5 separate regions of the Homo sapiens genome follow, and regions 1, 2, 3 and 4 are each linked to region 5. Evidence: fine-mapped expression QTL. A gene starts in region 5. Each other region holds a variant in brackets. All regions are shown on one strand. Distances are between the middles of the regions. Region 1 overlaps SNX11 (sorting nexin 11). Region 2 overlaps SKAP1 (src kinase associated phosphoprotein 1). Region 3 overlaps SKAP1 (src kinase associated phosphoprotein 1). Region 4 overlaps SKAP1 (src kinase associated phosphoprotein 1). Region 5 holds the start of SKAP1 (src kinase associated phosphoprotein 1).

Evidence for each region.
Region 1: its variant is fine-mapped to the expression of SKAP1 in whole blood (INTERVAL, PIP 0.95).
Region 2: its variant is fine-mapped to the expression of SKAP1 in whole blood (INTERVAL, PIP above 0.99).
Region 3: its variant is fine-mapped to the expression of SKAP1 in whole blood (TOPMed, PIP above 0.99).
Region 4: its variant is fine-mapped to the expression of SKAP1 in whole blood (INTERVAL, PIP above 0.99).

The regions. Positions count from the first base shown.
Region 1 is chr17:48,121,672-48,126,801 of GRCh38, reverse strand. SNX11 (sorting nexin 11) reads right to left here. Exons shown (of 7, transcript NM_013323.3): 7 at 3,201-5,130. Among named protein-coding and RNA genes, the nearest start is that of SNX11, 16 kb to the right of the region's middle. The variant T/G (reference allele first, on the strand shown) is at 1,965.
Region 2 is chr17:48,371,679-48,376,810 of GRCh38, reverse strand. The region is part of intron 2 of SKAP1 (src kinase associated phosphoprotein 1); the gene reads left to right. Among named protein-coding and RNA genes, the nearest start is that of SKAP1, 56 kb to the left of the region's middle. The variant AC/C (reference allele first, on the strand shown) is at 2,603.
Region 3 is chr17:48,190,585-48,195,716 of GRCh38, reverse strand. All of the region lies in intron 4 of SKAP1 (src kinase associated phosphoprotein 1), which reads left to right. Among named protein-coding and RNA genes, the nearest start is that of MIR1203, 37 kb to the right of the region's middle. RefSeq lists an enhancer at 2,931-3,548. The variant C/T (reference allele first, on the strand shown) is at 1,933.
Region 4 is chr17:48,150,520-48,155,651 of GRCh38, reverse strand. The region is part of intron 11 of SKAP1 (src kinase associated phosphoprotein 1); the gene reads left to right. It overlaps LOC124904018 (a long non-coding RNA gene), which reads right to left. Exons shown (of 2, transcript XR_007065827.1): 2 at 2,776-5,082. Among named protein-coding and RNA genes, the nearest start is that of MIR1203, 3.4 kb to the left of the region's middle. The variant GTC/C (reference allele first, on the strand shown) is at 2,626.
Region 5 is chr17:48,428,226-48,433,225 of GRCh38, reverse strand. It overlaps SKAP1 (src kinase associated phosphoprotein 1), which reads left to right and starts at 3,012. Exons shown (of 13, transcript NM_003726.4): 1 at 3,012-3,151. The coding sequence starts at 3,106. RefSeq lists a silencer at 2,839-3,098.

The DNA of each region.
Region 1 (5,130 bases), 310 kb after region 5:
CAAGAAACACCACGCAGAAGGCAGCTGCAGATGAAAGGGTTCGGCTCTGGTTCCCTCCTCAGTGCACTGGTGGGACTGGGGCCGGGCAACATGCTTTTCGTATGTTGACTACAGTCCCCAGGCAGAAGTGGGGAGATTCAGGACAGATTGCCATCTCTCGGCTGTGATTTTCCTGGTCCTCCGTGTTCATTTACTGGAAAGTTTTCTCATACAAAATGACTCCCAGGAGCTCTGTCCAGAACCAAAAAATAAATAAAACAAAAACGCAACCAAAAACCACTGCCTTCTCAGGAGGCCAAAATAGGAAGTGAGGTCCAGTGTCATTGTTGTCTCTGCCAGCACAGGCCAGACAGGAGGGCCATCACTGGTCCTGGTGCCAGCCAGAGCCCTGTCGACGCTGCCTCCCATGGGCCCTGAATCTGAGGCACCTGGAAGGGTTATTAGCAGGATTGGAACTCATCCCTCTGCTGGGACCAGATCATAATTACAGTAATTTTCTAACAGAGCTCGGCAGTAGGACTGTTTAATCAGCATCTGACTCCCTTGTGCTCCCAGCCCTCATTACTCAAGGAGAGGAGTGGGATGCCTCTTAAAGAGACAGTGCCCGCCTTTCAGCGTTTTGAACAGATGTGCCCTAATTGGTAGAATATATCTAAGTCTCACAGCTTATAGCAGGCAGGCTGCATTGCCTCCAACAAACTGCCTCAGGCATTCACTGTTCTGGGCCTTCTGCGGGAAGGATCCGGGTCAGGCTGCTGGTGGGGTGGGCTAGGCTTCCCACACCAACACAGCCACCAGGGAAAGGGACACACAGAGCTAGAGCACTTACAGGATTCGAACAGGCTGGCCCTTTCTGAACTGACGGTATCAAAGAAAATGTGCTTGGCTGAAGGACAGGAAGGAGAGACTTGACAGCCATGCAGCCATGCATGAAAAGAAATTTTGGCTGGTGGCTTCCCATAATCCAGAGATTCCAGAAGCATCTTGTGTTCCTGCCCTTCCAGGGGAAAAAAACCTTAGAGACTTCCCAGTAGTCTCCTAATTCTCACACCCTAGCTTTGTCACCTCTGTTTATTATCTGTGACCCTTTGGCAACCATGAAAGTACCCCTTGGCTTTTTTTCCTTCTCCTTTGCTTGTGAAAATAGACCAGATCTCCCCTGAACAAAAGAAAAGTAAAATTATTCACTCTGCTTATTCAGTCAGGAGGACTCTGTCTCCTAGGAAGTGTAGTTCTTGTTAACATTTTGAGCATAAGTTGTCTGTTTATTATATCTTGAGATTTGAGGTCTCCAGCTTTCCAACTCCAAATCCAGTCATGGCTAAAATAGAAGTGTTTTTCCCCCCTAAGAAGTCGTATCTCTAATAAGGCCAGACTCAGTGGCTAACACCTGTAATCTCAGCACTTTGGGAGGCCAAGGAGGGCAGATCACCCGAGGTCAGGAGTTTGAGACCAGCCTGGCCAACATGGTGAAATCCCATCTCTAATAAAAATACAAAAATTAGCCAGGCGTGGTGGTGGACACCTGTAGTCCCAGATACTCAGGAGGCTGAGGCAGGAGAATCACTTGAACCCGGGAGGTGAAGTTTGCAGAGAGCCGAGATCATGCTACTGCACTCTACCCTGGGCAACAGAGCAAAACTCCATCTCAAAAAAAAAAAAAAAAAAAAGTCATTATCACCTCCCAAGCAAAGCTAACAGAGAGGATAGGAGGTACCTTGGACTCGGTAGTATGGATGTAAGGCCTTAGCATGAGAAAACTAAGAACTGTGAAAGAGCTCTGATTTCTGAGAACAATTCTGAAAAGCCCTGCAGGGTTGTTGTTTTTTTCCTTGAATGTAGTGGTAGACTTTTTCTTTTTTGGAGTGGTAGGGGACTTGTCTCACAGAGCTTGGAAAGTATCTCTCATGTGAACATATTCCACCATCATCTAAAAACATGCTTTTTAAAAAACCACACTTGGC[T/G]GGGCACAGTGGCTCACGCCTGTAATCCGAGCACTTTGGGAGGCTGAGGCAGGCGGATCACTTGAGGTCAGGAGTTCAAGACCAGCCTGGCCAACATGGTGAAACCCCGTCTCTACTAAAAATACAAAAATTGCCAAACGTGGTGGCTCACGCCTATAATCCCAGCACTTTGGGAGACTGAGGCAGGTGGAACATGAGGTCAAGAGATCAAGACCATCCTGGCTAACATGGTGAAACCCCGTCTCTACTAAAAATACAAAAATTAGCTGGACGTGGTGGCACGTGCCTGTAGTCCTAGCTACTCGGGAGGCTGAGGCAGGAGAATCACTTGAACCCGGGAGGTGTAGGTTGCAGTGAGCCAAGATGGCGCCACTGCACTCCAGCCTGGCAACAGAGCAAGAGTCCATGTCAAAAAATAATCATAATAAATAAAATAAAAATAAAAATACAAAAATTAGCTGGGTGTGGTAGCAGGCCCCTGTAATCCCAGCTACTCTAGAGGCTGAGGCAGGAGAACTGCTTGACCCCGGGAGGTGGAGGTTGCAGTGAGCCGAGATTGTACCACTGCACTCCAGCCTGGGCAGCAAAGGCTGCCCATCTCAAAACAAACAAACAAACAAATAAAAAAACACACACAAAAACATTGAGCTCAGTTTCCTCAACGAAAAAAGGAGCATATACCTAACCTACCTTCCTTGCTAGGCACTGAGAAGGGCCAATAAAATTATGTTTATAAAACTTAGTATTTTAATGTAAGAAAACACCCCCCTCACACACAAACACATTTCCTCCCACCAAACAACCTCCACAAGCTTGGAATCAGTCATCCTGGGTAATGGATGACTAGATGTGGGCCATGGAGGTATCTGACAGAAGAAAGGTGACTACATCAGGACAGAACTTGACTCAAAACTAAATTCTAAACAAAATATTTTTATCCTACAAAACAGCTCAATGAGCCACTCCCCACAGCTAATCCTCCATCTTTCATAGAGGTCATCTGGCCACAGTGGCTAGACCTGGGCACACGCAGGGACAGAGCAAAACAGAAGAGGGGCCTATGGCACTATCTGGATGGAGAGGAAAACTCATGTGCGCTATTTTTCGGATGACCCTAGGCTTGTATTATTAGAAAAGTGCTTTCCTTCCTAGGACTTCTCCTTCCAAGGCCTATACTCAGTTAAGAGAGAGACTGAAAAGAGATGGTGCCTGGCCTTAGATTAACTGAGGTGCTGTTGTATGCATGCTGCTAATGGATCATTAAAAAAGCTGGGAGTCAGAAAAATCACATCCATGTCTTTGAATGGCTCCTGCTGTCCCAGCAGCCTAGCCGGCTGGCAGAACTAGCTGCTGAGCACCAACTCCAGGAAGAAAAGGAGCAAACAGAAGAAGGCCAACCCAGCTTGCTGTTTTTTTGGCTGAGTAGGGAATTGACACAGACCACCTCCAGCTCCTGTCTGGAAGTTTCGAGATCAGAGAGCTTCAGGCACAGCTGGGTTCACAGCTGCACCATTTGGAGCATTGGGCTCATTAATATTCATGAGCCATCCCCACCAATCGGCAGAGCGGATGCCATTAGCTTAGCATCTGTCGGGTTTTTGTGAGGGTTGCACATGGAGTTTTTTTCCCCTTTTAAATGAACTTCTTCTGACATTTTGGATTTGCCTCTGTAGGTTTTCTATCCTCGCCTTGCTCTGCTGCATCATATAAAGGAGAGACCCAGGGGAGGCGGGCAGGAAAGAGGGATGAATACCAGCCAGGGCTTTGCATCTGCCTGTTGACAAACTTTATTTCTCTTTCAGCACCTGGCACCTCAGACAGACTGCGAGGATGGAAGCAGCATCAGGTAAATTATACCTAACAAGGTTCACGCCCAGAACTGTGAGAAGAGTTGGATCCCAGCTCTTTGGAAGACAATCCTTCCTCCAGTGGTGAACTTGAGCTGCACACACAATGCAGGAGGGCTACAGAGCACAGTTCTGAAGCATTATTTCCACACTGATAAATTCATGATTTATGAAAGGAAATACTGCCAGCGCTCACTCCCTCCTTCTCTGCTACAGCTTGTTAGACACAAATTGCAACAACAATCTTAAATACTTGCATTTTATTTCAGGCCAAAGCCCCTCCACTCTGAACTAAATGCCATGACAGTCCCACAGCATAGGCTGGTAGTAAAAGAGCCCACAGACAGGGTAGGATAGCCAGAGGAGGGAGGAGTGGGCGACAGGGAGGGGAAGGATCACACACACAAACCTAAGAGTAGAGCAATGCAGAATGCCTGTGGCACTCGGCTCCTACCAGCTCTGGCTCTCAGTGGAGATGAAGAATGGCAGCAGGAGGACAGAATGCCTCATTGTCTGAAGGAGAGCGTGTTGTTTCTCATCTCCATCCCCAGAGCCCTCTCTTTCAGGCAGGCAGAAACAAAGCCCTTGCACCCCACTGCACTGCGCAACACAGCAGAGACGCTGGTGGCGGAAGCCCTGGAGGCAGGGAGCTGCTACCAAAGGAGAAGAAAAGGATTCCAAAAAGAAAGGAGCCCACTCTAACCCTGCGGAAAAGATGGCCACATGTCTGCTTTATAACCAGAAGAGACAGTAACAGCCCGGGACAGCCTTTCCCAAAATAAAGGCCCCTGGGCTGTTACTGTTCCCTCTGGCTGTGGCCAGCCACTTCTCTCTCATGCATGACCATGAGCTGTTGTGCAGGTCTCAGGCTCCACTCAGCCAGGCTAAGGTCTCGGGACATAAATCCCCAGCAGCAGGAGTCACAGCACCAGTTCCATTCAGTGGTATCAGTGAAAGAAAAAGCAAGGAGGTGGGAAAGTAAATATTCATCCCCCTGTCCATGCAAGGAGGTAGGCAAGAGGCCAGCCTCCCACAAACAAAGTGCTCTAGGGCTACAGCAAAAACTGAAGCCAGCCAAGATGGGGATACAACATAACCACTCCCAGTGGGATGATGTTCAATATGGCAGCTTAGAATTTGCCACATACGGGTCCCCAAAACTGGTCACCTGAGGAGATACTCCTGGTCCTACATACAAATGACCTGCAGAAACTCAGATCCCAGGAGAGTAATATAGGGTTCTGTTCAAAAGCAACAGCCCCTGTGTCTTATGTTTAACTTACAAACATCTGCACAGTATTTGTTCCCATGGAAGAGGC
Region 2 (5,132 bases), 56 kb after region 5:
CTGGGCCAATTACATCACTTCTACACAATTTGATTATTTCGGCCAAACTGGTCCACAGTTGGGTTTTCTGTGCTCTTAGTCCCTCACAGAGTGTCTGGCAAATAGTGGAAATTTATTCATCTCTACTACTGAGAGAACAAATGCAGTATTCGTAACTTGAGATACAGAGACTGTGTTGGCATGTTAATGCTGAGATATCCACCTTGCCTAGATGAACTCTAATAACTAATCCAGCTTAAAAATTTTTTACATAACATTTGCCTTCAGGTGAATAATATGTCCATGTTCATAACAAGGAAAATATCAAAGGCATGATAGCCGAGTTTTTCCAAGGAGGTTTTAAATGTTTTTGTAGAAATTGTCTCATTTTTAAATGAATATCACATTTTTGAACTTGCCCCTGATTCTGTACAAGATAAACTGTGGTGGCCCCACAGTGTGGACTTTTAAACTCCTATGGTGCGATCAGATAACCTCTCCATGCTTCATTGTTCTCATCCGTAAAGTGAAGGCTAGAGTAAATGATTTTAAGTGTCCTTCCAGCTGTAAAATTCAGTGAGTATATGGGCCACAGTCACACATTCACTCAGCTACCAGTTATTCACTAATCAGATAATGGCGTCTCAGTGGTCGAAGAGTAGCTGTTAACCTGAAGCAAGCAAAAAATAAAACAAAATTAGGTTTTTAAGCGTCAACAGTGACAAAAATGACAGAGCAAGGGCCAAAGAGACAACAGTTTAGAATACAGTAATCAGCTGGAGTTATTTGTACATAAGCAGTACCTTGTTTTCTCCAATACACAAGTTTGGAACCGAAAGGCGTCTCTGACTTTCCTCTTGATGCTCTCCTCCTAGCCAGTCTCTAAGTCTGTTATCTAATGTCTTGTCTTTTCTCTTGCTCTCAAGTAGCTTCCTAAACTATCTCCCCACTTTTCTCCCTCCCATCCATGCTACACATCTCTGCTGGATTTGATGTGGACATCATTCTTTATCCTTAAAGACAAACAAACAAACAAAGAAACAGACCTTTCAATGACTCCTTTTTATTTACAGAAAAAAACCCTCCAACTCTGACCTGTTGTTTAGTGTTTTTATTTTGCCATAATGTATTTGGCTAGCATTTTTCCTTTATTAGTTCATCGAATTATAGTTTGTTGCCTATTACATGGAGGAAGTATGGGGATTGTGTAGACATACTAGTGAGATTTGCTGGTGAAAAAACAGTCCTCATGCTAGAAAGTAGGGGAAGGAATGTTAGAATGTGGGTTTCCAGTGTTGCAATCAGAAAGCTTAATCACTCACTGATCAAAAAGAGTTCTTAGGTTTCTTAATGTTTATACTCATGGTGGGTGTTTCATTGACCATAGCAATGATTCCATGTAGCAAAAGTGTTATAGGAGACTCTAGTGTTAAATAGTACTTTAATTTCTTTTCAAAATTTAATTTCTTTTTTGCTGTCCAGGAATGGACTTAAAAATTGTGGTGGGGGAGCAGGTGATGAGTTATACTGTCAATCTCAGATAATGTTGTTTATTATTTAATATAAGTTTGATTGTGATCATTGTATTTAGTAGGTAGGTGAACATTGTATTATCTACCTAGATGGGCTTGTAAATATAGACTCAAGACCACAGAAATATTACATCCCCCAAAAGAACCCGGGACCTTCTTGTGATATGTTCTTCTATTACATAATTGAGTTATATGCCTATTGTCTGTTGTTACAGTAGTATTTATCATATTAGATTGTCATCTCATTATATACAAAGAGCTAATATTTTGGACTAGATTGTAAGCTCCTTGTAGGTAGGCATTAGGTCTTGTACTTTTGGTGAGATTAAGGAATTGGGACTAGAAGGATCACCAGCTCTTCCACCAAAGACCTTCCTTTTGCTGCCCAGTTGTTTCTAAGGCTGGTACCTGGACCCCTGGGTCCCAGGCCTTGGATGCCTCCACTGGGGACTTCCACCAGATGGTGCTGTTTTCCCATTTCTGTTGTTGGGTGTCACTGGCCATGTTACTCTTTGCCACTAGTCCATACCTTCTGCAAGGTAGTAGATGGGACACTTTCAGAAGATAATTTGGAAGCAATGTGAATCTTTCCAAGTGAGAAAAAGAATTATAGGAAATATTTAGTGTACAGACTCTTAGCATTGCTCAGCAAAGCCATTTCCTTGGGCATAAATAAACTTCTACCATGTGGCTGACTGCTCAAGATCAGTTGCAAGGGGTTTTCCTAGCCTTATCAACTTGCATGGAATCCATGCCCAACTAGGTGTCCGTCTGAATCCTAAGATTCCATTTTCAATGCAGGATAACTCTTCAGTGTTAGCCTTTGCAGTCTGTTTGGAGACAGCCATTATCAGAGAACAGAGATGGTCAAGAGAGAGATAGAAGTCTTTGGACACTGAGTATTGCAGACAGCCTATGCATTCAGAAGGCATTGCTGTTTTAGTACAAAAAGGAAGTTCAGGCTGAATGCAATGGCTCACATCTGTAATCTCAGCACTTTGGGAGGCCAAGCAGGCAGATTGCTTGAGTCCAGGAGTTCAAGACCAGTCTGGGCAACATGGTGAAACCCTGTCTGTACAAAAAAAAAAAAA[AC/C]AAAAATTAGCCAGGCATGGTGGAGCGTGCCTGTAGTCCCAGATACTCAAGAAGCTAAGGTGGAACGATGGCTTGAGCCTGGGAGGCAGAAGTTGCAGTGAGCTGAGATTGTGTCACTACGCTCCAGCATGGGCAGCAGAGCAAGACCCTGTCTCAAAAACAACAAAAAAGAGAAGTTCAAATTTGGATGTCCTTAAGTCATTAAGAAGAGATTTGATTTTGTTCAGCAGGAGTTTACCAAGGCAGAGAGTATATGATGTGTTTTAAATTTCCATAAGTCACAGGTAAAATAACACTTTTAATACTTCAGTTGCAAAAAAAAATTCATCTAGATGTTCTAGAGTTATAACATCACAGATGTTGGCCTTTCTGGGTAGCTAGTTTTATAATGCCATTACAACTCTATTCACCTAATTCAGTGGGTCATATCATTTTTGGTGGGTGTGGGGCAAGGGTGAGTTATTGACACTAATGAGGTCTATAGACTCTTCTCCAAGAGAAAAGAAAACAAGTGTTACATTTCACCCACAATTTTAGAGAGTTTAGGAAATCCCCTGAAGCCTAAACTATGGACTTCAGGTTAAAGACCTCTGTCTAACCACTCCCTAATATTCATATTAGGGTTGATTCATGCCCATAGGCTATCTAACAAAACAACTGTATCTTCTCTTAAGTACCAGATTTATTTTTTTTTATATATTACAGCCAATAGGAAAGCAGTTAATATGGAATTTAAGAGCTTGGGCTCTGGAACCAAGTAGACCTGTGATATGGTTTGGCTCTGTCCCCCCACCCAAATCTCATCTTGAATTATAAACCCCACATGTCAAGGGAGGGACCTGGTGGGAGGTGATTAGATCGTGGGAGCAGATTTGCCCCTTGCTGCTCTCATGATAGTGAGTGGGTTCTCACAAGATCTGGTTGTTTGATAAGTGTCTAGTGCTTCCCACTTCTCTCATGTTCTCTCTCTCTCCTGCCACCCTGTGAAGAAGGTGCTTGCTTCCCTTTCACCTTCCACCATGGTTTTAAGTTTCCTGAGGCCTCCGCAGCCATGTGGAAGTGTGAGTCAGTTAAACCTCTTTTATTTATAAATTACCCAGTCTCAGGTAGTATCTTTATAGCAGTGTGAAAATGGACTAATACAACCTGGATACAAATCTTGGTTCTGCCACTTAGTAGCTATGTGATCTTGGCCAAGTTGTTTGACCTTCCTGAGTTTGAGTTTCCTCATGTGTAAAATGAGGATAATAGTAGTCCTGGGCTGGGCATAGTGGCTCATGCCTGTAATCCCAGTGCTTTGGGGAGGCCAAAGCAGGAGGATCACTTGAGGCCAGAAGTTCGAGACCAGTCTGGGCAACATAGTGAGAATTTGTATCTACTAAAATGAAAAATAAAGGAAATTAGCCAGGTGTGGTGGTGCACACCTATAGTCCCAGCTACTTCGGAGGCTGAGGCAGGAAGATTGCTTGAGCCCAGGAGTTCAAGTTTACAATAAGCTATGATTGCACCACTGCATTCCAGCCTATGTGACAGAATGCAACCTTGTCTTAAAAAAATACTGACCTCCTAGGGTTTTTATGAAGATTAAATAAAATAATACATGTGCCGGGCATGGTGGCTCACGCCTGTAATCCCAGCACTTTGGGAGGCCAAGGCAGGCAAATCACCTGAGGTCAGGAGTTCGAGACCAGCCTAACCAACATGGAGAAACCCCTGTCTACTAAAAATACAAAATTAGCCGGGCATGGTGGCACATGACTGTAATCCCAGCTACTCGGGAGGCTGAGGCAGGAGAATCACTTGAACCTGGGAGGCGGAGGTTGCGGTGAGCCAAGACTGCACCATTACACTCCAGCCTGGGCAACAAGAGCAAAACTCCGTCTCAAAAATGAATAAATAAATAAAATAACACATGTAAAACATATACCTAGCACAGGGCCAGACGTGGTGGCTCATGCCTGTAATCCCAGCACTTTGGGAGGCTGAGGTGGGTAAATCACTTGAGGCAAGGAGCTCAAGACCAACCTTGCCAACATGGGAAAACCCCATCTCTACTAAAAGATAAAAAATTAACTGGGTATGGTGGCACACGTTTGTAATCCTAGCTACTCAGGAGGCTGAGGTACGAGAATCGCGTGAACCCAGGAGGCAGAGGTTGCAGTGAATGGAGATTGTGCACTGCACTCCAGCCTGGGTGACAGAGTGAGACTCTGTCTCAAAAAAATATATATGATGTATATGCATATGTATATGTGTATATCTAGCACAATGCCTAACATGTAAGTGCTAATAAATGTTAATCATTTTTTTATAATTGGGAAATAGAATTATTTTTCCTTTCTTTTTTTCTTTTTCTTTTCTTTTTTTTTTTGAGACAGGGTCTTGCTGTGTTACCCAGGCTGGAGTGCAGTGGTATGATCATGGCTCACTGCTGCCTCAACCTCACAGGCTCAAGGGATCCTCCCACTTCAGCCTCCCAAGTAGCTGGGACTACAGGCATGCATGCACCACCATGCCTGGCTTTTTTTT
Region 3 (5,132 bases), 240 kb after region 5:
CCTTTAGTCTAGCTCCTGTTGCTCATGTTCTGTTTCCTAGCTTCTTACATCACAGCTTGTTGAAGAACTTGATTAAGTACGTTGTGTTCATTCCCTTCCTTTCATCTGTTGTCCAATTTATTTCTCCATGAACAGTTCCATTCAGTTAGTTTAAAGCCATCTGTTTGAGTGCTTTCTATATCTTTGAAATTTTAGATGCTAAATCTATTACTAATGTTTTAGAATTTTTCACCTTTCATATGTTAAGCTAAATTCCTTTATAAGTGAAGCACAATGCAAGAAAAATGTGTGGTATAAGTGTAAACTCAGGTGGATATCAAATGGAACCACGGAAGTTAAAGAATTATATATGCCTGTTCAAGGGACTAATCAAGGAATAGTCATTGAAACCAACTTCCTTGTTAGCATCGGAAGATGACACTTCCTGCCAGACACTACAAACTATCATTTATTGACTGGTTCCTGAAAATTGAGAAGAAGGCAAAAAAGTAACCCAGAAAAGTAAGAAGCTAAGGAAAAGCAGTAATGAACATATTAAAGAAGGCCACAGAAATCAAATGCACAAAAGAGAGGTTCATGAACAGATTTGAAATCCACAATCACCAGACAAGAGAAAACTACCCCCTCCCCAACCTATCTGCAATACCCTCCTCACCTTGGTACATTTGAGGCATTTTAAAGCGTGTGTTTGTGTTTATGTCTGCAGATGCACACACACCAGCCATCTGTGACTGCATTGGAATTGCAGGTGGAATTTGACCATTCCCAGCCTTCAGATGTTAAATTTTCTCCAATCTCATACACCCAATCCCCAGGTTTTTTACATGAGTACTTTAATGAAGGATCCTGCTAAACTTCACCCTGTCTGAAATTCACCCCTGTTAGCTATTAGTCTCTAGGCTCAAGTTGGTTAGGTCCCTCTTTTAAACAGTTGAAAAGAACTTGAATTAAAAGGAAGAGGGAGGATGGGAGAAGTCCATAACTTAACAGGGGGACGATTTGAACAAAAGATGTTTTTTAAAAAACTATTTATTTTCCTTTCAGGATGATTTAGCAAGAGACCAAGCCAGCTGCCTATAATGAAAGTTAGTGGGCACCTGGTTTGTTCTGCAGGGGCTGCAGCCTTTTTGCGTGGAAATTGTGTGGCCTCCTGTGCTATTAGCCTTGTGCTCTGGTGTTGCCAACTGATTTCTCCAATTCTCTTTTCTCAGTGGGCTAGAACGCAGCTGGTTAAATAGGCCGTGACTCACATAAGCTCTCGTGTCTTTTTTATTGACTGCTTTATGGAAATGTATCACACTCCAAAGGGTCCCCATTGTTGTTGCTGTGCATAGCTGACTAAAGAGTCATGTTTAGCATTGAGAGATGGAATCCTATTCTGTCGTTTTTTATTGCTTTTTTTGATGTGGGTGGGATACAAGGGTTTAAAGGAAACTAGATGAAGAGAAAGATATCTGAGAATTTCTTTTATCTTCATCTGCCATGAAAGTTGGGTGGCCATCACTTCTGGGTAACATACTTCTCTGTTGATCTTATCTTTGTGGCCCCATATCCTTCAGCTAAGTGAATCTTTTCTTTATACGGGCTGTTCTGAGAGGTTTAGTTAAGTGTAGTGGTAGGGAGAGATTATGACACTAATGTAATTCTGTTTTGTGCTGATATAATGTAATACACCTTTAGACTTAGCCAAGAGGGCCATTTATTCTCAATAAATCAAAATCATTTTTATTTTTTCATGACGGTGGTGATATCTTTTCTCAGGTAATGAATAAAAAGCTTCTTTTTTTAATTGTATACTTAAATATAAATTGTTTGCCTTAAAATAGCAACTTATACAATTGTTTGCAACTTCTTCCTATTTTTATAACCGTCCTTTAAAGCATATTTTACATACTTTCTATTATGCATTAAGTAGTTCTCTGCAGATCTGTT[C/T]GTTTACCAGTAGGTGTGGATCCAGGCATACAAGATTCCTGCCTCATCACCCCATGGCATGGCTAACACTGTTCATCCTCAGGATCACTAGTTCTTGATCAGTAGGACCCTGCGCTGACACTGAAAGAGGAGGTACCTTGCATGCCACTGTGGATTCCCACCTTGGTTATTTGGATTTGTCAGATAGATCATGGAGCTAATGAGATTGAGCTCAGAGCCAACTACATTGAGAACAACTCTGTTATTGAACTCACCACACAGTACCTTGTACACAGAAGACAGTTAGTAGACTAGAGACTGATCTGACCTCATTTCCTAATTTTTTTTCCGTAGACATTCTAAACTGAGCCTATAATCCCATTTTTTCCCACTGCCCATAAGGGGAACCAGGCAAGAGAATTCCTCAATACAGATTCTGTCTAATGAATAAGAAAGCAACATAGACCGGGTGCGGTGGCTCATGCCTGTAATCCCAGCACTTTGGGAGGCCGAGGCGGCTGGATCCCCTGGGGTCAGGAGTTCAAGACCAGCCTGACCAACATGGAGAAACCCCGTCTCTACTAAAAATACAAAAAACTATTCAGGCATGGTGGTGCATGCCTGTAATCCCAGCTACTTGGGAAGCTGGAGCAGGAGAATCGCTTGAACCCGGGAGGTGGAGGTTGCAGTGAGCTGAGATCACACCATTACACTCCAGCCTGGGCGACAAGAGTGAGACTCTGTCTCAAAAAAAAGAAAGAAAGAAAGCAACATAACACATCTTACTGACTATACACAAAAACACACCATATAAAAAGCTGTTTCCAGCTCTATTCCTTTTCAGAATCTTGTTAGTGAATGACCAAGAGAAAAAATTCAGCAGCTCCTTTGGTACCCAATTTTAGCAAACTGAGTTTGACTCTTGGGGAGAGAAGGTGGTGATGGTGCTATCCCTTGTCTCCTAGAATTAGTGACTTAGAGTTACATCTCTGCTGTATTATGTCTTTGTTTCCTTAGTGGTGGCATTCTTGGGTTTCAGTTGGTGGGGAGAGAAAAACCTCATGCTGATAATGTACTGAAAGTAAATGAAATTAAATAAGCGAAGCAGTGCTCATCACTACTTCCTCCCCCCTGGGTAATTCAATTCAAGCTCTCTCTCTGATGGCAACTCACAGGGGCTGTCTCTGTCACCCCGCTGGGGCCTGGAGTCTTAACATCTAAATAAAAGTTTCACTCAGGCATTTTTTATGCTCCTGCCAGCAGGATCAGTGAGCTGGTGTGGGCACATTAATGTAATATTCATACTCACAGACTCTCCCTGCACACGAGGCAATGTCTTCCCATTTTCATAATTATAGATGTTCCATAAAATGGCATTTAAATTTGCATTAAAAAAAGGAGGTTTGAATTCTAATAGAACGTTTAACATGTCTTTTATGATTCAGACTCTTGGCATCTTTGACAAGGAGCTGTGTCTCTAAGTTTAACAAGACCTTTAAAAAGAAAAGAAAAAAAAAACCTGTGGAAAGAAGAGATGGAAACTCCCAGCTTATGGGATCGTGTTTTCCTCATCTCCCTATGTCTTTCATTTAATTTTTAGGCCTCCAGGAGCAATTTTTTTTTTTAAGAGGCAGAGTCTCGCTCTGTCCCCAGGCTGTTGTGAAGTGGTTCAATCACAGCTCACTGCAGCCTTGAACTCCTGGACTCAAGAGATCCTCCTACCTCAGCCTCCAAGTAGCTGGGACTACAGGTTTGTGCCACCACACCTGGCCTCCCCAGGAGCAATTTTTTGACAGCACTTCAGAGAGCCTTCTCTTCTGTAACTGGTCCTCACCCCACTCAATGCCTCACCCTCAGTAGAATCTGCTACTGTTTCCTTGGAGGGTGTTTTCAGAGGGGTAGGAGAAATGAAAGAACCCTAGAAAAATGAACTTTCCTTTGCTGCTGTTCATCTCATGCGTGCACCCTGAGATTGATTAAAAGGATTTATGGCAACCACATAGTTTGCTAACTGTGAAACACACAAATAAAAGTAGTCCATGAACAAGGAGGTTAACAATAAGGACCAATTGGATAAAAAATCAGGCACATAGACACACTTAAAAACAGAAAAAGAGGCTCTTCTGATCTACCTTTTTATAACTAAGCTTGAAACAGCTTTAAAGCAAAATGTAATTTTGATTGCATTTTAAATTGTCGTAGATGTTATTTTAAAACAAAAAGTAGGAAAAGCACTGAGCAAAGTGCCAGCTCATAGCCACCATTGAATAAATGTTATTGTAGGAAATGTTCAAAAAACAATTGTTTGAAAAAAAGTTATTTCAACCATAACTCTCAAGATACTCTATAGGTGGCCCAGTTGATTCATATGTAGTTATGCCTTACTTTGTTTTGTATTTGGTTTGCTTCATAAATTATTTAAGACAATCCAAAAGAGATTTGAGTTCTGGGACTAAAAAGAATAAATGTTAAAATACCGCTAGCCCAATTACCTTCATTTTGCCTAATTAAGAAATGTGGAGTGTGTCCTTAAAAGAGGCTTTTTTTTTCATTCTTCTTTCATTTTATTTTTTGAGAAGTAAATTCCTTCTTTGTCTCCATCCTTTGTCCCTCCCTTCTGTGAAGTAAGTATAAACCCCAGTGGAGGAAGATGGATTAGGATCTTGACTTCTCAATAAATTTGTACCTAACAAGGCTAATTGAAAGCCAAGAATGTTAGCAGCATACAATTAAAGGCTGATGTAAGTTTCAGGGTATTATTTGTGAAGCCTTTTACAGTTCTTAGATTCTTTCGCATACTTTTTTTTGTTTGTTTTGTTTTGAGACGAAGTCTCATCCTGTCGCCCATGCTGGAGTGAAATGGCACGATCTCGGCTCACTGCAACCTCCGCCTCCCGCATTCAAGAGATTCTTGTGCCTCATCCTCCCGAGTAGCTGGGATTACAGGTGTGTGCCACCATGCCCGGCTAATTTTTTGTATCTTTAGTAGAGATGAGGTTTCACCATGTTGGCCAGGCTGGTCTCAAACTCCTGACCTCGTGATTTGCCTGCCTCAGCCCCACAAAGTGCTGGGATTACAGGCATGAGCCACTGGGCCCAGCCTCTTTCTCAGACTTTTAAGAAATCAGGATTTGACAGTTATTGCTAAGTTCAGCTTGCATAGCCCTTCTTCTATGAACTTAAAAAAATTTATGTTCACAGAGATGGCTATCTGTTTGTTA
Region 4 (5,132 bases), 280 kb after region 5:
CTCCTGGCCTCAGGTGATCCATCTGCCTCGGCCTTCCAAAGTGCTGGAATTACAGGTGTGAGCCACTGTGCTTGGCCTATGGTCACTTGTTATAAGTGGGAGAAAAAGAGGTAAGAAGCCTCTATTTGGATAAGACAAGTCACAAGTCCTAGCTTTCAGAAAAGTGACCCTGTCTTCTTGGCTCCAGTGTCTCTCACTAGGGAACATTCTTTCCAAATAATAATAATGCTTGTTGGCAGGGCGTGGTGGCTCACCCAGCACTTTGGGAGGCCGAGGCAGGTGGATTGCCTGAGGTCAGGAGTTCGAGACCAGCCTGGCCAACATGGCAAAACCCCATCTCTACTAAAAATACAAAAATTAGCCAGGCATGGTGGCGCGTGCCTGTAGTCCCAGCTACTAGGGAAGCTGAGGCAGGAGACTCGCTTGAACCCGGGAGGCAGTGGTTGCAGTGAGCCAAGATCATGCCATTGCACTCCAGTCTGGATGACAGAGCGAGACTCCATCTCAAGAAAAAATAAAAATCATCATCATCATCATCATCATCATGCTTGTTCCACTATTCAAGATAACTTTTTTTTTTTTTTGAGACAGAGTCTTGCTCTGTCACCCAGACTGCGAGACTGGAGTACAGTGGCACAATCTTGGCTCACTGCAACCTCTGCCTCCTGAGTTCGAGCGGTTCTCCTGCCTCAACCTCCCTAGTAGCTGGGATTACAGGCTCAAGCCACCACACCTGGCTAATTTTTTGTATTTTTAGTAGAGATGGGGTTTCACCATGTTGGCCAGGCTGGTCTTGAACTCCTGGCCTCGAGTGATCTGCCTGCCTTGGCCTCCCAAAGTGCTGGGATTACAGGTGTGAGCCACCACGCCCAGCCAAGATAAGACTTAAACGCCCATTTTTTTTAAAAGCATCCTGTTCCATAAGTTATTTATGGTGGTAACATGAGCTGTTCAGAAGATAAGGACAAATTAAAGAGGGAAAGAGAAGCTCTTTTTCAATTGACTAGGAAGGAGAAGAGGCCACTGGGTGAGATCTTCCATTTAAGGTAAACTGAGCCAGTGTACATCTCTTGGGCTTGGGTTGTGTGCCTCATAAATTGGTCTGAGGCTCTTCCAAGGAATTGTCCAGTGCCTTATTTCCATGGAAAGCAGCCTTGGAGCAACAAGTTGGGTACGCATAAGATTTATACTTACACGGTGGCTTAGCTGGGGTGGGAAGGTATTCTCATGGCCCAGACACACCAGGGTCTGGGTCATCTTCCTTGCTGATGGAATTGATGTGGAAACAGGGAGCCATACAGACAAAGTCAAGTTTAGCGTGGAACACGTGATGCTGTCAGATGGTCATGGGTCTTATGTGGAGAAGAATGGACTTTGTCACCCTGGACTGCAGCTACTTAAACTCAGATGAGATCCTGGCTCCACAGCCAGTCTAGTCATCTGAATGCGGCAGGCCTGCGCCAGCACACCTGGACTATGTTAACACAACACTATGTCAATTATAATGGGAGTTTTAACCCGGTTTTCTCCACCTACTTCCTCAATGGGCTACTTAAAAGAATGGAGACCTTTCCCCTCCCTTGACCCCGTTCTTTCCAAAAGAGATTTGTATGTTGTAAAAATTATCTTAATGCAGCAATACTTCCTCTTTTAAGTGTGCTTAGTTGAATGTGACAACAACCCTCATAAAAACAGATAAGTTAATTCCTTCAATTGCCTTAAATGAAGGATTTTTTTTTCTTTTTTTTTTTTTTTTTAATTTCAGGGCTCTGAGGGAAAGGAGGTGTTTGGTGACATCTAGTGTCCATTTAGGACTTCCTCAGGCACCATACCCTCTGGTTGGCTGAGTGGGGGATGGGTGGGGGGTTATCTGGGAGGTAATTTAGGGGTAGTAAGTGGGGAGAATATAGGCCTGGGGCACAGGCTGCCCAAACAGTGTGATGAAACTGATCAATGCCTGTCAAAGAGCTATTATGCACCTCTGACCTAATCAAAGGGGTGGGTGAGGGGATCCTATGGCAAAGTATCTTTTCTTATTTATGATGGTATGCAAGAGAAGCAGAAGCTGTCCCCACCACCCCATTTCATGTTAACAAGCAGGTCAACACTGTGCTGTGATGACGAAGATGATGATGATGGTGTTTTCTCTCATTAATAACCCCTATGGGAGGCAACGGAGTTAGGAGGATGGGAATGGGATTTGGGGTCAGCTGGAAGGCAACGGTCATATACCGGTCAAATTCAGTAGAGGCCATTCCTTTCCCCCAGACAGGAACCAATCGTCTAGAACAAACCCTGGCAGCCTCATTCCTTCCAGGTAATTTTTATAAATGAGGGGACACCCATTCCAAGAGAGGACAAAAGGGAGAGGGTGTTTATGTGTGTGTGCATATGCATGCATGTAAACCTGCTAACAAGAGGCCCAGTTGCTCATCAACCCATCCTGCAAACCCTGACCATTTATTCTAAAACCCATTTTTTAAAAAGAGAATAAAATTGGCATTTTATTTTATTCTATCTATCTATAAATAGTCTAATCTATTTATTCCTAAACAGTTGTCCTGGACAAGACCTTTCACTTTTCTCTCTCTCTGTGTATGTATGTGTGTGTGTGTGTGTGTGTGT[GTC/C]CATGTGCACACAGTTTTCAGTTGGGGAAAATTCCAGACCAGATAATTAACTACGAAGCCCAGACAGAAACGTTTACCTAGAACCATATAAGCCACGGCCGGGTTAGGTTAATGCTCAGAATTGCCCGATGCTTTACAAACTCCAGTGTAAAAAATTCCAGCCATTTATTTTGCAGTGAATTTATAACAAATGCTGTTAACGTCTTCGTCTTTTGACAGAGGTAATAATAAATTCACTGTTAAAGATGGTAGTTTAATTCCTTATACCTCCAATACTGCACAGAATAAACCATATTCATCACTGAGTAATTTTTTACCACATAAATCTTTAAAACTAACCGGTGAAGGCTGCGGAAACTGAAATATTGTGAATTTATTAGATATGCCCATGTAGTATTGGATTCAGAGGTTTCCATTTGAATATATTATGGGGAAAATTTGTGTCTTTAACTGTGACATTCCCTCCATTTCCCACCGCCAGTATTATAACAAGCAGCTCCTCCAGAGTCAACTGCACATTTATTAGACAGAGATTTAGTAATAAACTCCCCACTAATCTGCCAAAGAGGCTGGATGACATTTTGGTGAGATGCCCTATTTAAAAGGAGTCACAAAAGCTTTGTTTCAGTATAATTATTTTCTCAAAAGAAACTCAGCCTCCCCAAACCTCTTCTGCCACCATTTCTTGGTATTGCGTGATTCAGCTCTCCAACCAAACTAGCAAAATATTGAAACAAAGTATAACCTCATTGCTAACATACAGGGCAGTAACTTCTATGGAGATTATAGGATTAGTTATGCAAGACTGAAGGTAATTGATTAGAACACAGAAAAGCTTAAATTTGCAGACATTCCCAGATGTATGGTATTTAAGGCTAATAAAAAGATCATATTGATTCTCAAATTAGAAATAATAGAAATGGTTTCAGAAAACTAGTTATTTAAAAACTTTCATCTTGACATATGAAACGTTAAAGATACAGTTAAATCCTCAGATTTGAACAAAAATCCTTTTACTCTACATATTAATTTTGAGTGAAAATCTGTACCTGATAGATGAGAATATTCTGAACCTTTCTCATGATTTGCTAGTGAAGTGACAATGAAACTAACCAAGTATATCAAATTGTAACACCCTCTCCAGTTTCATTAAGGAAACATTAATATTGCTAAAATGAAAAATATTTTTTTCTTTTAAATGCAGAAATGTTCATCATATTTAGCAAAGAGAGTCTGCAGTTTCTCTGTTCCTGATAATATTCTGTATTTGGGGAGAGTTCCAAATACTAAGAACTTACATGGAGCATTGTGAACTTTACCGTTTTTTAATAAAATTGGTTTCTAACTATTAAACAAAGGAGAAGAATCTCCTGGCAGTGCAAGGCTGTAGCCCATCCGAATAATTGTTAAAAGACAGAACCCAGCTAGAAAGATAGGCATAATACCAGCAATTAATATTCAGCATTTCACATTATAGTCAAGAGGATGTGTTTTTCTTTGTGATGTGGCTCATAAGCTAAGAGTGTTGGGAGCCAGACTCTGAACTGTGTCTTCTTTTTGTGGATGAGGATTAAGGAGGAAAAAAACAGCGACGACAATCCTGCTCCATCTGTAAATGAACAAACATCTTGATTTTATAGCTATTTGCTTTGTAAAACTAAGGAATGAAACAAAAATTACTGGATGCCTAAGTAACACTTTAATTCTGAATTCATTTACGCTATAGCTATGTAGTTGTCACAAACCATAATGCAGTATTTAATTAAAATAACAGAAGTGCATCTAGATATGTCCTGGGGTAGCTGTCACCAAATTATACTCTATGCCATCGGTATTTTATTTATGAAATGGCAGATTCTAAGGTGCAACTAGGCTGATACAAAAGCATGAACATTTTAAACTTGCATTTTTAGAAAGGCTCTTTTTTTTTTTTTTTTTCCTGCTGCGTCTTTAAATGTTTTCCTCCTTCTGTCTTTGGAAGGGGAGGGAGGTTAGTGTGATTGTTTAAAGATCTCTCTAAATCTTGCTTTTCAACTGTTGACCTCCTAAGTCTTCTGGCTGTGAAATCCCCGTCTGTTGTCATGGAAAGGCTTGCGAGGTTCACAGGAGCCACAGCAAGTGTGGGACATCTTAGGCAGAACTTGGACGTGGATTCCAGGAGGGTAGGGAAAAGAGCAAACCGTTTCAGACTCTCTGTGCCTGTTCCCACATAATCTTCCTTGCACCTTTTTCCACCTATAAATACCCGTTGTCGTGTACACGCTTGCTCGCTCTACTTTGTGGATGTTCACATGCAGACATACTGCTCTTTTTCATAAGCGCATAGCATCTATCTTATACGCACCCACCATCTATCTCCTTGTTCACATTGGCTGTCCCATCCACCTCCTTGTCTGCAGAATTATGTTCAGCAAGGTCCCGATTTATAGGAAATAAATAATGAAAATGGAACGGACTGGGAAAGATAATCGAAACATTCAAATTGTTATTTTTCACTGTACTTTA
Region 5 (5,000 bases):
AGATTTGGCTTCCTGCGAAATTGGATTTCAAAAAAGGACAAGGCTTCAAAGGAATTTGTCCATTTAACAGAATGTCATTAGGAGTGGGGCTGACTGCTGAAACAGGGTCCTCAGATGATTAAGGAAGGGCTGCGTTCATGTGTGGAGGCAGATTTCTGTCTGCAATGAGGAACCTTGATGCAACATGACAATACCGTATTGGAATCTGCCAGTCACTCACTACATACTACCCGACTGTGCACCTCCCTCTACCCCTGTCTCTCTAAAACCCAGAGATTCTTGTAAGGAAGGATGCATATAGAATACGTACACTGTGAGTTTTTGGTGTAAGTAAGCTATGACAGGCAGTGAAGCCTGCAAAGAAGTGCAATTACCTGGGTTTACTGCTCTTTATCAAACAATTCATTAGCTGGTAGCTTATATTAGTATGTGACACCATATCCTTGAAGAAGAGGGGGAGGTTATCAAATTTTCTTCTGTTGCCAAGAAGGAAAGCAAGGCAAAGTTTAGGTTGACATATGGGGAGACTTTGCTGCCCTTGCTGTATTTTTTGTGTAACAGTTTAGATTTACCAAAAAAAAATTGAGATGATAGCACAGACAGTTCCCATGTATCTTTCCTTGCTTTTTAGTATGCCTCATAAGTACTTCAAAATGATTCTAGAGCAGCTACAATTTTATAGGTGAAGTGGTGAAGTTGGTAAAAATGCCATGGGGGTACCTGGTACTTGATCCCAAGCCTGAAAGGGGTAGTCTGCCCATTGCTATACTTTCTTTCTTTCTTTCTTTCTTTTTTTTGAGATGGAGTCTTGCCCTGTCACCCAGGCTAGAGTGCAATGGCCTGATCTCGGCTCACTGCAACCTCCGCCCCCCGGGTTCATGTGATTCTCCTGCCTCAGCCACCCGAGTAGCTGGGATTACAGGCGTGCACCACCATGCCCAGCTAATTTTTGTATTATTAGTAGAGACGGGGTTTCACTATATTGGTCAGGCTGACCTCAAACTCCTGACCTCGTGATCCGCCTGCCTTGGCCTCCCAAAGTGCTGGGATTATAGGCGTGAGCCACTGTGCCCAGCCACCCATTACTATACTTTCTCAGGGCAGGAAGGAGGATGAGCAGGAGCCAGATACCCCAGAGAGGCTCATGCCAGCCTCTGTCCCCTCACCCCAATTTACTGCAGCTTGTAGGTGGGTCATGTGACACTGAAACCAATGCACCACTGCTTTTCAGATGGCAGGATGCACTGTACTCCTTAAAGGATCACACCCTCATCTTTGAGGCTGTATCTCTGGATGGGAAACAGTACAAGGAGGCAGGCACTTTTATCACACTCATCCTTCTCGATGGTTTCTTCTTACTGCTCTTGCCCCGTCTGCTAGATTGAGTCCATCATTATTCCCCTTATGGCTGTTGTAAAAACCATTTTACCCACTTCCCCCTGTGTCTTTTCCCACCACTCCTAATCTTTTCTACATATTCTGTAGGTTGAGTCTGAGAATAGAAATGCCATTTTTTACAAAGAAGGAAAAAGGCAGAGGTGGAGATGTGTGAGGCCACATACCACCCCGGAGCTCTGGTTAGGTCATTCCCAATCTCAAAAATTGTCAATGGCTCCCCAGTGCCCTCTCAATTAAGTTCAACATTCCTATTCTGACTTTCAAGTCCCTTCACAGTAGAGCTGCAGTTTATCTTGACAACCATAGTCTTTCTACAACATCCAGTAAAAGAGGGCTACTAACTATTCCTCAAGCTGGTGAGGGCTCTTCCATCTTTCTTTACTCTGGTCCTTCCACCTGGAAAGTCCTCTGCCCCTTCAAAGTCTGGTGTGTTTTTCAGAGCCCATCTCAAACACCACATGCACCTTTAAACACTCACATGCACACTGGCACTTCTTTTTATTTTCTTTCTTTTTTAAGAGACAGGGTCTTGCTCTGTTGCCCAGGCTGGGGTACACTGGGGTGATCATAGTTGGCTGTAACCTCAGATTCCTGGGCTCAAGTGATCCTCCTGCTTCAGCCTCCCAAAGTGCTGTGATTACAGGTGTGAGCCACAATGCCTGGCCTCTTCCCTCCTTTTCTGGTATTCAGCTCCCTTCTTTTATCAACCATAGCACTTTATACTTTTTTCATGGCAGTTGACCTATTGTACTTAAAAAACCTCTTTATTTTGAGAATTATAGATTCACAGAGAGTTTCAGAAATAATAGAGGAACTCTGTCTACCTTTACCCAGTTTCCCCCAAGGGTAACATCTGGCACTATTACAGTACCATGTCACAACCAGGACACTGACACCAACTGTCCCTTGAATGAGACCGTGTGATTTTGTCCTTCACTTTCCTCCCTTCCGCAGCTCCTGGAGGGAAAGGGCTCTGTTCTCCTCTCCCTCAGCTTTCTCCCTGTGTTACCCCTTCCTTTCCTCAGGGCCTTTCCATCCTGAGGGAGAACAGCACAGTTTGGTTTCCTGTGTCCCTTGCTGCCACGCTGCCGCGATTCTCCCAAATGTTGGTGTCCTTATATTGCTTATTGGGAATTAATCATTTCCTTTCAACATTGTGGCTTCCCAAAGAGCGAAGTTTTGCCCTCTTTTCTGGGGATGGAGATGTGAACTGGACCGGCAATTGAGGGGTGCTATGCTTGACGGGGATCTCTTCCTTGGATTCTGCCTCCCTGCACCCTACTTCAGGCACCCCGTGGTCTTTCAAATCTGCCACCGTGAGGTCAACTGTTCGGTGCTTAGGATGGAGTGTCCAAAGCCGTGGGTCCTTTGAGCCTTGTGAAGTCTTTTGTTTTGGTGGGTGCTGGAGGGGCGCACCTTTGGCCTCGCACGGTGCGGTGCTTCCGGCACCCCCAATCCTTCTACCGTGGGGCTCCGGCGTGAGCGCCACGTGCACCCACGCCCCGCGCCCCGTTCCGGTCCCCGCCTGCCGCCCGCGCCACTTCCTGACGCGCCCGGGGACCCACGGCCCCGCCCCGCGGCCGGGCTGGGCGGGCGGCGACCGCGGCTGAGGTACAGGTGCCTCGCGGTGCAGCCGGGTCGCCTTCCAGCCCGTCCGCCTCCCGACCAGGGCCCGCGCCCCGTCCCGCCTCTCTCCCGCCCAGCCAAATGCAGGCCGCCGCCCTCCCTGAGGAGATCCGTTGGCTCCTGGAAGGTAACGCCCTGGCGCAGGCCCCCTCCAGTGCTGAGCCGAAGGCCGAAAGGGGACACCAGGCCTCCCACGGCCAGGCTTTCTTTACGGCTTCGTCACTCACCTCCTTCTAGAACCTTAAGGCTTCTAGAGCCCTCAACTCCCTAGAGCCAGCTTTCCATCCTCTCACCTCAGGGCCCCTTTCACTCCCTGGAGTCCCACATCTTCTTTTGCCTTGAGGCACCTCCACGCCTCCACTTCACCTCCCCGGCTTCTAAAGTCCTCAGGCCAGGTTCTTGGTCCCCCATGCCACCTTGCCTGGTCTCCGACCTGTCCCTTTCTCCAAAGGACTGCCCTACATCTGTAGGGTTTCCCGTCCCCCTCCTTCCCCAGCCACGACTTCCTCACCTCTCACAGAAGACCCCAAACCTTCCTGCTTAGAGGTCCCCGAGGCTCTCCAGGGGGCTGCGAGGGGCTCATGGGATCCCCATGGGCCAAGGCCAGGTGGTTGACGTGAGTTTTTGTCAGTGCGAAAACCCCAGCCCTCCCTTTATCACCCTGCAGACGTCTAGGGGTCTCACCCACCCCAAGGCAGGCTCATTCTCAGTATGGGATTTCCTCCTTTTCTAGAAGTGCCCCCATTGTGGTGTGTTCACCTTCCAACTCCCATTGTGGTGTGTTCACCTTCCAACTACAGTGTCTAAGCGGTGGTTTAAAGAGTTCCGGCCATCCCCGTCAACACTCAACACACACTGCCAACACTCCAAAGAGATGTCACAAAGAGACGTTGCTAACGGGCAGTTTCATCTGCTGGGTTTCGTGGTGGAAGTCACTTTTACTTGCTTTCCTGTAACTAACCTTCCAGGGAGGACAGAGGCCTGGAATCTGCAGTCGCATAAGGCTCCCAGGAGGAAACTATTCAGAATTAAGCCTTTTGGCATCTAAGTTGACATAGTTGACACATATTTAACAGACGGCCTGCTTTGGGCAGGTCATATTTTTGGCAAGCAGTATTTTTTTTCAGTTTCTCTCAATTTAATTGGTTTTATATCTCCATTACCTTGTTATCTCGGTATAAATGCCTCCTAATCAAATATTTGGCAAGTCCTTTTGGTCTCTGTCTGTAGCACTATTTCCATTCTGGATTGCTTCTATGTAAAAGCTGTCAGCTAGATATTTCTTTTGAGGTGAGGTTTCCAAAATCCGTTTTACTTACGATCAGAATAAATCTAAATTTTGGGGGTAGAAAACTATTTGCAGGGTAAAAGAGAATTATCTGGGTGTCTAAGAAGAAACAATCCAGCCTTTCCCTCTGTTGTTGGTTTAATATTAGGCTTGTGAAGGAAGGCTGTAATTGTCTTTGGTTTCTAGGAAAGAAGGGACTGTGGCAAAAAGTTTAACTCTGCCCTTGCATTGAAATATATAAACTGATTCTTTTTATTGGTATCTGTCATTTGATGAGAGGAAACCTATTTTATAAGCTTATTAAACTATACTTCAGTTTTGTGTCTAGGCTTGGTAGAAAATTCCTTTTTATTTTCAGAGGCTTGCAATGAAATCCATTCCTTCAGCATTTTTGATGTGCAGTTCTTCATTGTTCAAAACTGACACTTTGGTAAACAACTCATTTCTGCACCTGCCACCTTCCTTTAGCTTAGATTATTTTCTTGTTAGCTGACTGTTTTTAATTGAAGTCTTCAGATCTCCTTCTAAAGCAGAACCTTTGTTTGCTGACAAGTAGAGCGGGGTATGAATGGAGATTAATTGCATGTCGCATACTTCTGTATCAAGCTTGCTGTATCTTAACAATCTCTGTTGGTGCTCAGGTCTTTAAAATATATGGAGGAGTCTGAAACCAAATTATAAGGAGCTT